Linked DNA regions of Homo sapiens: region 1 is linked to region 2. The links come from fine-mapping of genetic effects on gene expression. A gene starts in region 2. The other region holds a variant in brackets. All regions are shown on one strand. Distances are from middle to middle.

Evidence for each region. PIP is the estimated chance that this variant, and not a neighbour inherited with it, causes the effect.
Region 1: its variant is the best candidate, but not a certain one, in a credible set for the expression of TESC in monocytes (TOPMed, PIP 0.60).

Annotation. Positions count from the first base shown.
Region 1 is chr12:116,960,201-116,965,570 of GRCh38, forward strand. It overlaps FBXW8 (F-box and WD repeat domain containing 8), which reads left to right. Exons shown (of 11, transcript NM_153348.3): 5 at 4,497-4,654. Among named protein-coding and RNA genes, the nearest start is that of FBXW8, 52 kb to the left of the region's middle. The variant G/A (reference allele first, on the strand shown) is at 2,844.
Region 2 is chr12:117,097,271-117,102,640 of GRCh38, forward strand. TESC (tescalcin) reads right to left here and starts at 2,146. Exons shown (of 8, transcript NM_017899.4): 1 at 1,955-2,146. The coding sequence starts at 2,012. TESC-AS1 (TESC antisense RNA 1) reads left to right here and starts at 2,197. Exons shown (of 3, transcript NR_120464.1): 1 at 2,197-2,374; 2 at 3,183-3,370. RefSeq lists silencers at 1,542-1,641, 1,712-1,821, 1,882-2,401, 2,140-2,278, 3,145-3,362 and an enhancer at 5,278-5,370.

The sequences.
Region 1 (5,370 bases), 140 kb before region 2:
TTTGGTCCAGGTCCCTCTGCCCCAACCTGTGTTTTACCCTACCAAAGATGTCTGTTTCCTTAGCACAAGTTCATGAGCATGGAGGCTGCCTCCCATGCTATTGTGGCTTTCACTTAGGTTAGATTTGAGAGCCCGCTGCTGAGTCATAATGCAGTACCTGCTGCAGTAGCATATTTAGTCTCAGTTCCTGTCAATACAGGAGACGTAGAGGCTTTTATATTTTACCTCCTGAGTCATTTTGCAGCAAAACATTTATGTTATTATCATACCTTTTGGTCATGGAGAATGAAGTTAATTTAAATAGATATATGGAAAATTTCATGTTTATTGAAATAATTTAGCTTATCCCCTGTTTTATAGTTTTTATTCAGTTTGGAAATAAGTGGAAGCAGTCTAATGCACATCAGTGTGTACATTCTGGGTGTTTCACTCATCATTACCATTGGAAAGTGGGCAGTGGAAATAAAGAGGTACCCCTCAAGCCAGTCAGGTTGTTACCTGCGGACACCCCCTTTCAGTCACTATTTATGATGAGCTCTGCATAAGGCACTGTGATGGAGGCTATGGCACTGCGGTAGGGCCTTCTTGAAGACTTTACAGTCAAGTTGAGGAGACGATCAATGCATAAGGACTGTATTAGTAAAAGCAGTTTCTTCAGATAAAGGGCATAGTAGTTGAGTCAGAAAGCTTCAGGCTTCAAGGAGGGGAGGGGAGGGCCTGTGTTAGACCTTGAGGGGTTGGTAGGATTGGGCTGGGTTGGTGATTCTCAATCTTGGCTGTATATTGAAAACATTGATGCCTGGTTCTATCCCCAAATGGTCAGATTTATTTGGTCTGGGAGGCTGGAATGCAGTGGCACAATCTCGGCTCACTGCAACCTCCACCTCCCAGTTCAAGCGATTCTTCTGCCTCAGCCTCCCAAGTAGGTGGGATTACAGGCACGCACCACCACACCTGGCTAATTTTTGCATTTTTAGTAGAGACGAGGTTTCACCCTGTTGGCCAGGCTGGTCTCAACCTCCTGACCTCAGGTGATCTGCCCCTGCCCTCAGCCTCCCAAAGTGCTGGGATTACAGGCATGAGCCACCGTGCCCGGCCTGTATCTGCACTTTTTAAAGCATTCCAGGCAAATTTAATGTGCAGCCCAGGCTGGACCCCACTGGGCTGGGAGGTGAGGAGGTGAGGTACTGCAGCAAGGTGGGGCAGAGAATCAGAGTTCAGAGGCAAGAGCATTTGGGATCCTCTCTGGAAGCCGGCCCGTGTGAAGGGAGAGTAGAAAATGAGGCTGGGGAGAGGGGTGGAAGTTAGTTTGTGGTGGGTTTTCAGTAGGTCTCATAATTAAAATTTCATTCAATAAGGTGTTAAGATGTAAGACTTTATAGAGGGTTCTCTGGGTATATGGCAAGCGCTGTTCTAGTCTGTCTGTTCCAGTCATTGCATGCACAGCTATGAACAAAACCCAGACCCTGAGCTCAGAAGCTTCAGGCTGGTAGGGAGATGAACAGTGAGATGATCACAGACATGCACCACTGCCATGACGGAGACGTCCAGGCTGCCGTGAAGGTAGATCGTAGTGCGGTGTAGTGTGGCATGTGAGGGAGAAAGGAAGTAAAGGAAATGGTTCCAGAAGAAAGATTCATGCAGTCAGGTGTTTTGAAGGGCTTGGCTTGTGGGGGGAGGATTGAATGGAAGAAGCTCCGAATCAGGGAGCCTGTAGTAGTCGGGTGTGAATGTGAGGTGTTGGGGGATTTGGACCAGGGTGGCTTCTCTGGGAATGAGCAGAACAGAACAAGCTTGGCACCTGAGCATCTATAGTGGTGCGGGTAGTGGGCCACAGCGGTGTTGAAGGGGCCCCTCTCCTTCTGTACCAGTGACCTGGGACTGATGATCCCATTGATAAAAATAAGGAATTCAGACACAGGCTAGCTTGGCCATGAGCTGAAGCATTTGATTTTAGACGTGTGGAGTCACAGTGTGAGTGGACCAACCTCCTCTGTGGGAGAAAGGCTTGCCCAGGAGCCCCTCAGATATGAATAGAGTGCTGTTATCTGTGGGGTTCCTGCCCTCACTCTCTTCTCTTTCTCTGAGTAAGGAGCGGGCTCAACAGTTTCTGTTTCACAGCTCACTATTGTCTGGTTCAGCAGCTAAAGTACCTTTTTCCCAAGCTTTGTTGTTTTGCTGTCATTTTGGCTCCGAACTCTTTGTGTTCAGGGAGCTGGGGGGCTGGAGCTGAGGCCACCTAAACCGTCTTTCCTCTCCACCCTCGCCTCCCCACTGTGTCCCCTGGGGGGGCACCACTGAAAACAGTGTGCAGACTGCTGGTGTGGTGTGACACATGGTTAGCAGGAAGCAGAAGGACAGAGACTGGCAAGAAGGAAATACAGTTTCCTAGTTTATGTACTTCTTTTTCTGAACGTGCCTTACTTTTCTGATCTGAATTCCCTTTATCTTTCTTTCACTTACCATCTGTGTATTTCTGAAAGACGTTGCCATCCTTCTCATCTTTCCTGAATTGGCTGGTTCCTGTCACATAGAATTTAACCTTAAGAATCTAGTCCCCCAGTCTAGACATTCAAACATGTCTCATCTGTTGTGTCTCTGTAGCTAAGCAAGTGGCCTTACTCCAGCAAATGGCCTGAGTCGTTCTCAGGGTGTCACACTGAGCCCGGTATTTTGAGGGCAGTGAGCTCCAGGGTATGTGTTCTGGTATAGGGTTCCTCATTGAGAAGGGTGAGCTGACCGCTGCTTGGAGAGCCTGGGGGCCAGTGGCCGTGCTTTGGCTGGGGTGATCTCAGGATCTGCCCTTGCTTGCACGTCGCTGGGCTTAAGGACATTCATCTTGT[G/A]TTTCTGTTTACTGGAGGATCAGTGGTCAACCCAGAGGTACAGCAGGCCAGGTTCAGAAAGCACGTCTCTCCCGTTTGGCTCTTTATCCCACATGCGCACTCTCTGGGTGCCACCCTGCAGGTAGAGAGCCAAGTTCTCCAACCAAGGAATTGGGGTGACAGAATGGCCTTTGGACTGTGCAATATATGTATTTACTGTAGATTAAGAATTTGGGTGCAGTACTACTAGTAAACAAAGCACTCCTGAATCAGAGTACTTCTCTATAAGAAATTCCACCTGAGGCCAGCTGTGGTGGCTCACACCTGTAATCCCAACACTTTTGGAGGCCGACGTGGGTGGATCACTTGAGGCCAGGAGTTCAAGACCAGCTGGGGGAAAACCCCATCTCTACTAAAAACTAAAAAAACAAACTAGCCGGACATGGTGGTGCACGCCTATAATCCCAGCTACTTGGGAGGCTGAGGCAGAAGAATTGCTTGAACCTGGGAGACGGAGGTTGCAGTGAGCCGAAATTGTGCCACTGAACTCTAGCCTGGGCAACAGAGTGAGACCCTGTCTCAAAAACAAACAAAAGAAAACAAAAACCAAGAAATTCCAGATTGGTCTTCTATAGCTACTTCACTAATGTGTCACATCATAGATTTCAGTGACTCAGTGAATCTCAGAGGTTATCTCATCAACTCGGCAAAGAAACCCTGCAGGAACTATGGCTAGGGCCTCAGGAAGACTATGAACCCCCTTAAAATCATTGGCCTATCTTTGTGATTGTGTGGTTCTATCATGAGGCCCTTAAAGGCATTTCTCACCACTTTTCCCCCCATAACACTCAGTTGCTGTACAAGTGGAGTAAAACCCTCTGCAGCAGACATAAGCAACATAGCTTAAATACCTTGGTGATGGGCAGCACCCCACTTTATCATCTGGCCATTCTGTCATCCTGGGGGCCTCAAGTCTGAGTAGGTTCGGCCTGGCCTGGCTTTGATGGAAGCAGTCATTTGTTGGAGTGGCACTAGTCATAGGAGAGAGTGAGTACTTCTATTTTCTAAGTGGGCAAAACCGGGCAGTGTCGCGCATTCAGCAAGAGCTTTTCATGAGCAGGCAGCACTGTCTGGCTGCTAAAGGCAAGATTTAATTGTTTCAGCAAATCAATTAGTCTTCAGGGACTTTAATCAGTCAAATCTGATGCATGGATGAGGTATTAGAAAGCCTGTGCCTGTGAGACCATTAGTTCTGAGTATCCCTGCAGCATCTCTCTCTGTCTTTCCTGTGAGTGAGTGTGTGCGTTTGTGGGTAAATAGTGGGGCTTATACAAATTTCTGCAAGTGATCCCTGTAGTGGGAGAGCTTGCAGGAGCAGATTGTTGTAATAGTGTAAAAGGAAAAGCAAGGAGATCTTGCTACCCATGTCTTATTATTGTTTTCTCATTTGAAATTGTCACCATTGTGCTGTGAGAATGTGAAGCGTGTTCACAGCCTTCTGTCATCTAGTTGACATTTTCTCCTGTTGGAGTCACTCATCTAAACAGTGCCTCAGCAGTGGCTCTACACCACCCGATTCTTACTTGTCTGTTGTTGTAAGGCTCTGTGCATTTTCCCCACCATAGCCCTGCTCTTCAATCTCCTTTTGGAACCAAGTGTGTCGTTCTCTTCCAGATATACATCAGGGGATGTGAGAGTGTGGGACACCCGCACCTGGGACTACGTAGCCCCCTTCCTGGAATCAGAGGACGAGGAGGATGAGCCTGGAATGCAGCCAAATGTCTCCTTTGTGAGGATAAACAGCTCGTTGGCAGTAGCAGCTTATGAGGATGGTAAGTAACCACAACCCTCCTCCCTATTAAGGAAAAAAAAAAGCTTTACAAAAATTAAGCAGCTGTGGCCGGCTCCCCCCTGTAATCCCTCCATATGTACACGTGGGCACACACACATGTTCACACACATACACTCACTCTTGCTTTTATTTGAAGAAGTTGGCCAACAACCGTCAATGCATTAGTAGGCATTGGAACACAGCACCCATTAAAACTGGTGTTTAATTCCTACTGGAACTGTCAGGCTGGGCGCTAGTGCCAGACACAAGGCTGGCCAAAGCATCTTAAGCAAATAACTTGTTTGATGTAAAATATTAAATATACTTGGCCTACTTTTCCTTTAGCCTCTGCTCAGCCCAAAGGGAATAGTGAAAAGGGGATAGACATAGGTCATCTATTGATAAATGTAGTTATAGAAAAATAAAAGTCAGTGCCTACCTTTTCCTGTCACTTAATATACCATACCAGATAATTGGTAATAATATGTTTTCTCTTTGACATTGATAGAATTCTTTTTGTACATGAACAACTATGGATTTTTGGAACTAGGTACGAATAGTCTAAAGTTAGCTTTATCTATGCAAAGAAACTCTTGACAGCGTATAACTACTAGAAATGGTCATTTCAATGGCCATGATATCCAGTATGCCCACCTGTCATGCTCCTATCCTCCGTTATGTTGTGAAGTGTTGAATCTCCACAAGCTTCATGTCCCC
Region 2 (5,370 bases):
CTGGGCAGCAAGAAGGGAAGCCGCTGCAGCTACATCTAGGAAGGTTACAGAGCAGGAACACAGCATCTGTCATCCCAGTGGGAGGCTGGACCCAGGAAACTGACAAGACTCCCAGCATGCTCTGCAGCCCCTCCTCCCTGTCAAACCCACAACCAGGTGGAATTCCCGAGTGCCCCGTGGGCTGCCGGAGAGCCCACCCTTCCAACGGGGATCCCAGCCACAGAGAATGCCCATCGACACCCATCCAGATTCAAAGCAGTGGGAGGCGAGGAGAGGGCACATGAGAAATAATAAAAGCAGAGGAGACCCAAGCAAGTAAGAGCTAGAGGAATCCCTCCTTTCTCTCTCATATTAGTCTTCGGATTGAAGTGCATAAAACTTTTTGAGTAAGTAAAATATCCAACATAGTTCAAAATGAACATATAAAAACGTTTACGGAGAAAAAGCTCACTCTCCCTTCATCCCTTCCACTCCCCCCGCAACCCCCACCAAGCATCCATTCGTACTTTCTGGTGGATTCTTCCAGTCTGCAAATATAGCAATTACAAATGTATACTCTTATTTTCCCCTCTTTTTACATTTTCTATTTCTTTTTACTTTGCGGCTCCAGCTCAAAGGATCCTTTTTTAAAAAACAGAAAAAAGGGTACCATATTATATATGCTGAGCCACACCTTTTACTTCTTTAGTTGGATATTTCTATATCTCTACACACACAGAGATACAGATATAGACGTATAAGTGCGTGCATACACACACCAGTTATTAATGGTTTTCTGCAATTTTCATCCAGTTCTCCTGGAAAGGGGTATTTAGATTGGGGGTCAAGAGGGGTTGCTTTTCAGCTGACACACAAACAGCTGGGCCACCCTCTCTTGGTGATCAATACTGGACGCTGGTTCTCTGCACTTGAAGCAGGTGCCAGGAGCTAGCTCTTTCCCAAAATATCTGCAGCTCCCATTTCCTGAGCGTCTACCAGGTACTAGGAGAACTCTTACAACAGAGAAGGAAAGCTGAGAATCAGAGAGGTAAAGTGACTAGCCCAAGGTCACACAGCCAGGAAGTGCAGCTGGCAGGGTTCACAGCCGGTCTGTCGCTCGCCAAAGCCGGTTTGCCCACACACCTGGCCCCCGCGGTCTCCAGTCCACACCCTGGTCCACAGCCAGAGGCAGAACTGGCCATGCCGAGTTCAGGACCCAGGGCCAAGTCCCCAGCCCGGCTGAACTCGGGCAGAGAAGCGCTTTCTCCGCCATTTCCCTGCGGGCAGCTCGGCCAGGCCTCCCAGGGCTCCCCGCCTCCGGGCCGATGCGGGGCGCGCAGCCTTTGCTGGTCCCGGGAGACTCAGCGAACTCAGGGGAGGACGCTGGGCTCCGGGCAAAGTGCTCTGCGGCCGCTGCCTCGCTAAGTCTCCCAGCCACCCGCGGGGATGAGGCTGCCTGAACCCATTTTACAGATGCGAGGACGAAAGCAGGCGCCGGGCGCCGGCTCTCCCGACTAAGGTCACCCGGCCGGGGAGCGTCGGAGACCTGTTCCCACCCAGGTCCGCCGACTTCAAAACTTTCCGCTCTCGCGCTCACGAATGCAAACGACTCTCAGGTGTGGGGCGCGCGCGCCAGCGGGGGTGCCTGAGGGACTTGCCCGCCCGGCCTGAGGCACCTGCCCTGCGCTTGGGAAGCCTGGGCCCCGCTCCCTCCCCGGTCCGCAGTCCCCCGGCCAGGGAGTTCCCGGGCCAGTCCGAAGCTGAGCGGCTGCGGCACTGAGCATCGCCGCGGAGCTCCTCGCCGCAGCCCGCGAGGTGGCCAGCGGGGACCCATTTGAAAGAGGAGGAGACTGAGGCGCAGAGAGGGCCCGCCACTGGCCCAAGGTCACACAGCGCGGCGGCGGGCCGGGGTCCCCAACAGTGGCCGTTCGGAGGTCCCGCCCCGGTCCCCGCGCCGCCCCCCGCGGGTACTCACAGCCGGTCTTGCCCTCGAGCTCCCGCACCTCCTCAGACGCGGAGTGGGCAGCGCCCATGGTGCCCGCGGCGGGGGCCCCGGGGCGCGCGTCCCTCTCAGGCCCCGCACTGGCTTCGGCTGCGCAGCGGCGGGACTGGCCTCGGGTCCGGCCTCGGGTCGGGACGCCGGCGAAGGCTCGGAGCCGCGGGTTCCGCGTGGGGCCGGAGCGGGGCCTCATATAACGGCGGAGGGCGGCGCGCCGCGGTCCTAGCGCACGCCGGTTTCGCGCACTGCGCGGCTAGGGGAGCGCCCCGCCCCGCCCCGGCCCGGAAACCGCCGGGAAGGGGACCCCGGAGCCCACCGCTCTGGAGTCCCCGTTCGTGCAGCAGTGCTCACGTACCTCGTCCCTTCCGCACACCTGCTGGATCTGGAAGGAAGCAGGTGTGAGCAAATTTGGGGGCGTGGGTAGGAGGGGTGGGACCCCTGGGAGGTGCTATGCCCACTCCCAACCCATCCCACCTTACATCCTCCAGATCTTAGGAGGGAAACTCCACTGAGATAGTCAAGGAAGTCAGCGAGCATGAAATAGCTCTATGGAGAACAACAGTAATAATAATCCTATTTGAAAATGCACCATGCGCTTTGGTTTTTTCCAGGAAAGCCCCAGCACCTTCTGAGGTGAACACACCCACGTGGCGGCCCGTGTGGGCCCTGCACAGCCCGGTGGCTGAGAGGCACCTCAAACTGCAGGAGCGGGCTGGGCGCATGGCTCACGCCTGTAATCCCAGCACTTTGGGAGGCCAAGGCGGGCGGATCACTTGAGCTCATGAGTTCGAGACCAGCCTGGCCAACATGGTGAAACCCCGTCTCTACTAAAAACACAAAAATTAGCCAGGCGCGGTGGCACATGCCTGTAATCCCAGCTACTCCGGAGGCTGAGGCAGGAGAATCACTTGCACCTGGGAGGCAGAGGTTGCAGTGAGCTGAGATCTTGCCACTGCACTCCAGCCTGGGCGACAGAGCAAGACTCTGTCTCAAAAAACAAACAAACAAAAAAACAACTGCAGAAGTGGGCCCAGGAGGCTGCATTTGGGACAAACTGCTGGAGAGAAGGCAATGCCGGTGGTCCCCATGCCCATTAGGGAAGTTCTGGGTTAAGATGGCTTGAGGGGTTGGCTCTCCATCCAGTTGGGGTGACTGGGGCCGATGCTGTTGCCTGTGTAATGTGATTCCTCCTCCTTAAAATAAGGATAAGTTAATGAGATGTCCACCAGAGGGCCTGGCGTGGACACAGCACATGGCCACAGAGGCTGGTGGGCGCTATGGAATCTTGTCCCCTGGAGAGGCACACAGCCAGGGCAGAACATCAAGGTCAAGGCTCTCCTGAAGGCTCTGCAGTGCTTAGTGACACCACCATCAATGACCGTCAGGTATCAGGTCTGTTCTGAACGTTAGTCTCGATGATAAATGTTGGGGAGGAAGGGGGACAGGGTAGGGGGCAGGAGTTTTTCGGTGCCCACAGAGGGGACTCGGGTGGACCTACCTCCATCAGTTTCACAGGCTGCTGGGAAGGGGGCTGCTGAGAACTGCTGTTCATTCCTGCAGACTACAGGCTCAAGCCAAGGGTCACAGCCCTTTCCAGGGGCAGGAGGTGACTTTCAGAGCCCGAGGTAGAGGGTGGGAGTTGGTCCTAAAACCTCCTAGAGCATCAGAATCAGCCCCTTCCTGGTTGCAAATCCAGCTTTTGGCCAGGTGCAGTGGCTCATGTCTGTAATCTCACCACTTTGGGAGGCTGAGACAGGAGGATTGAGCCCAGGAGTTTGAGACCAGCCTGGGCAACATAGCAAGACCCCAGCTCTACCAGCAATTAAAACTTTTTAAAAATGAGCTGGGCACAATGGTGTGCGTCTGAAGTCCCAGCTACTTGGGAGGATGAGGCAGAAGGATCGCTTGAGCTCAGGAGTTAGAGGCTGCAGTGAGCTCTGATTGCACCACTGCACTCCAGCCCAGGCAACAGAACGAGACCCTGTCTCTAAAATGGAAAATCCAGCTTCCTCTTCCACTGCCTGTCTGCACTCGTAGAGCTAAGGCAGCACCTGCAATCTGCATTTTAAAGCACTCTCCAGAGGGCAGTGCAAGACCTGATCAAGGTGGAAAGATGTTGGCTGTGGGTCATCAGCTGATCTGAGCCGGCAGGACAGCTGACCTAGGGACTGCATTTTGGTTTAAAGGATTCTGGAAACAGGCAGGCCTCTGGGATCAGGAAAGGATCCCCAATACCCCTGGGAGTTCTGAGCCGCTGAGCCAGCCCATTACGTACAGCTGCTGGGAGCAATTTTATTCCAACTTAAAATGTCAGTTCCTGGAATTTTATTATATTAAACTAGTCAAGGATTAAATGATGGAACTGTCTGATGTGGGGGATAGGAAGTGGCATTCTCTGGACATCAGCCCCTCCTGCTTGGCACAGTTGCTCTGGTGGGGACAAAAGCCCTGGGACAAGGAGAAGGGCACATGGCTTCACATTGTCCCTTGGTGATCTCAAGGAAGCCCCTGGTATCTAGTATGAAGGGAGTCTGTCCTACCCGATCACCTGTCTACCCTGACCCACTGACCGCTGTTAGCTACTAGACAAGCACTTGTACTTGTTCCTTTTGCCTGAAACTCTCTTGCACTCCCGCTTCCTCTTCAGACCTCAGTGGAAACTCACATCCTCAGGGAGGCCTTCTCAGAGTCCTCATCCCCTCTCCTGGGTCCACAGCCAAACAAGCCACCACCACCAGTCAGCAGGGAGCTGGGAGGCGGGAAGTCTTGCTGAGGATGACAGAGGAGGATTTATTCCTAATAGCAGGGCTTGGAGAAGTAATCAGGAGATCCTTGGAGCAGCACGAAGGCAGAAAAAACCAAGGCACAATTTATGCATTCGTTCAATCATTTATTCATTGCACATTTATTGAGCACCTACTATGTTCAGGGCTCTTGCTAGGTCCTGGAGCCACAGCCAGGAATAAGATGCCACCTTCGCTCCTGAAGAACTCCTGGTGGGGTGAGGAGACAGACACACGGGCAGTGACAAAGCAGATGGGTAAACAAGGGCTGACGTGATGGAGCCCACAGAGAGATGGAATGTTCAAACCAGAATGGGCCCCTGGAGAGACTCTGTCATCCCTAAAGCTGAGCTTCAGGAAGTCCAGGACTGTCCCCAACTGTGGTCCCGAAGGGATACAGCAAAGCCAAATTCTTGGTGGACAGATGTCTCTGTGGGGGCCCCTGCAGTGGCACCCACCATCTGCCCGGGCTCTGCCCTCCTCTGGCAATGATGTGCACACCGCAAGGCGCCCTCCACGCAAAGCCAGCTGCTGCCTGTTCCGGGACGTCATGGCTTTCATTCAAACCTACCAATGGCTCTGCAGGCGTCAACAAAGCAAGAAGCAAGA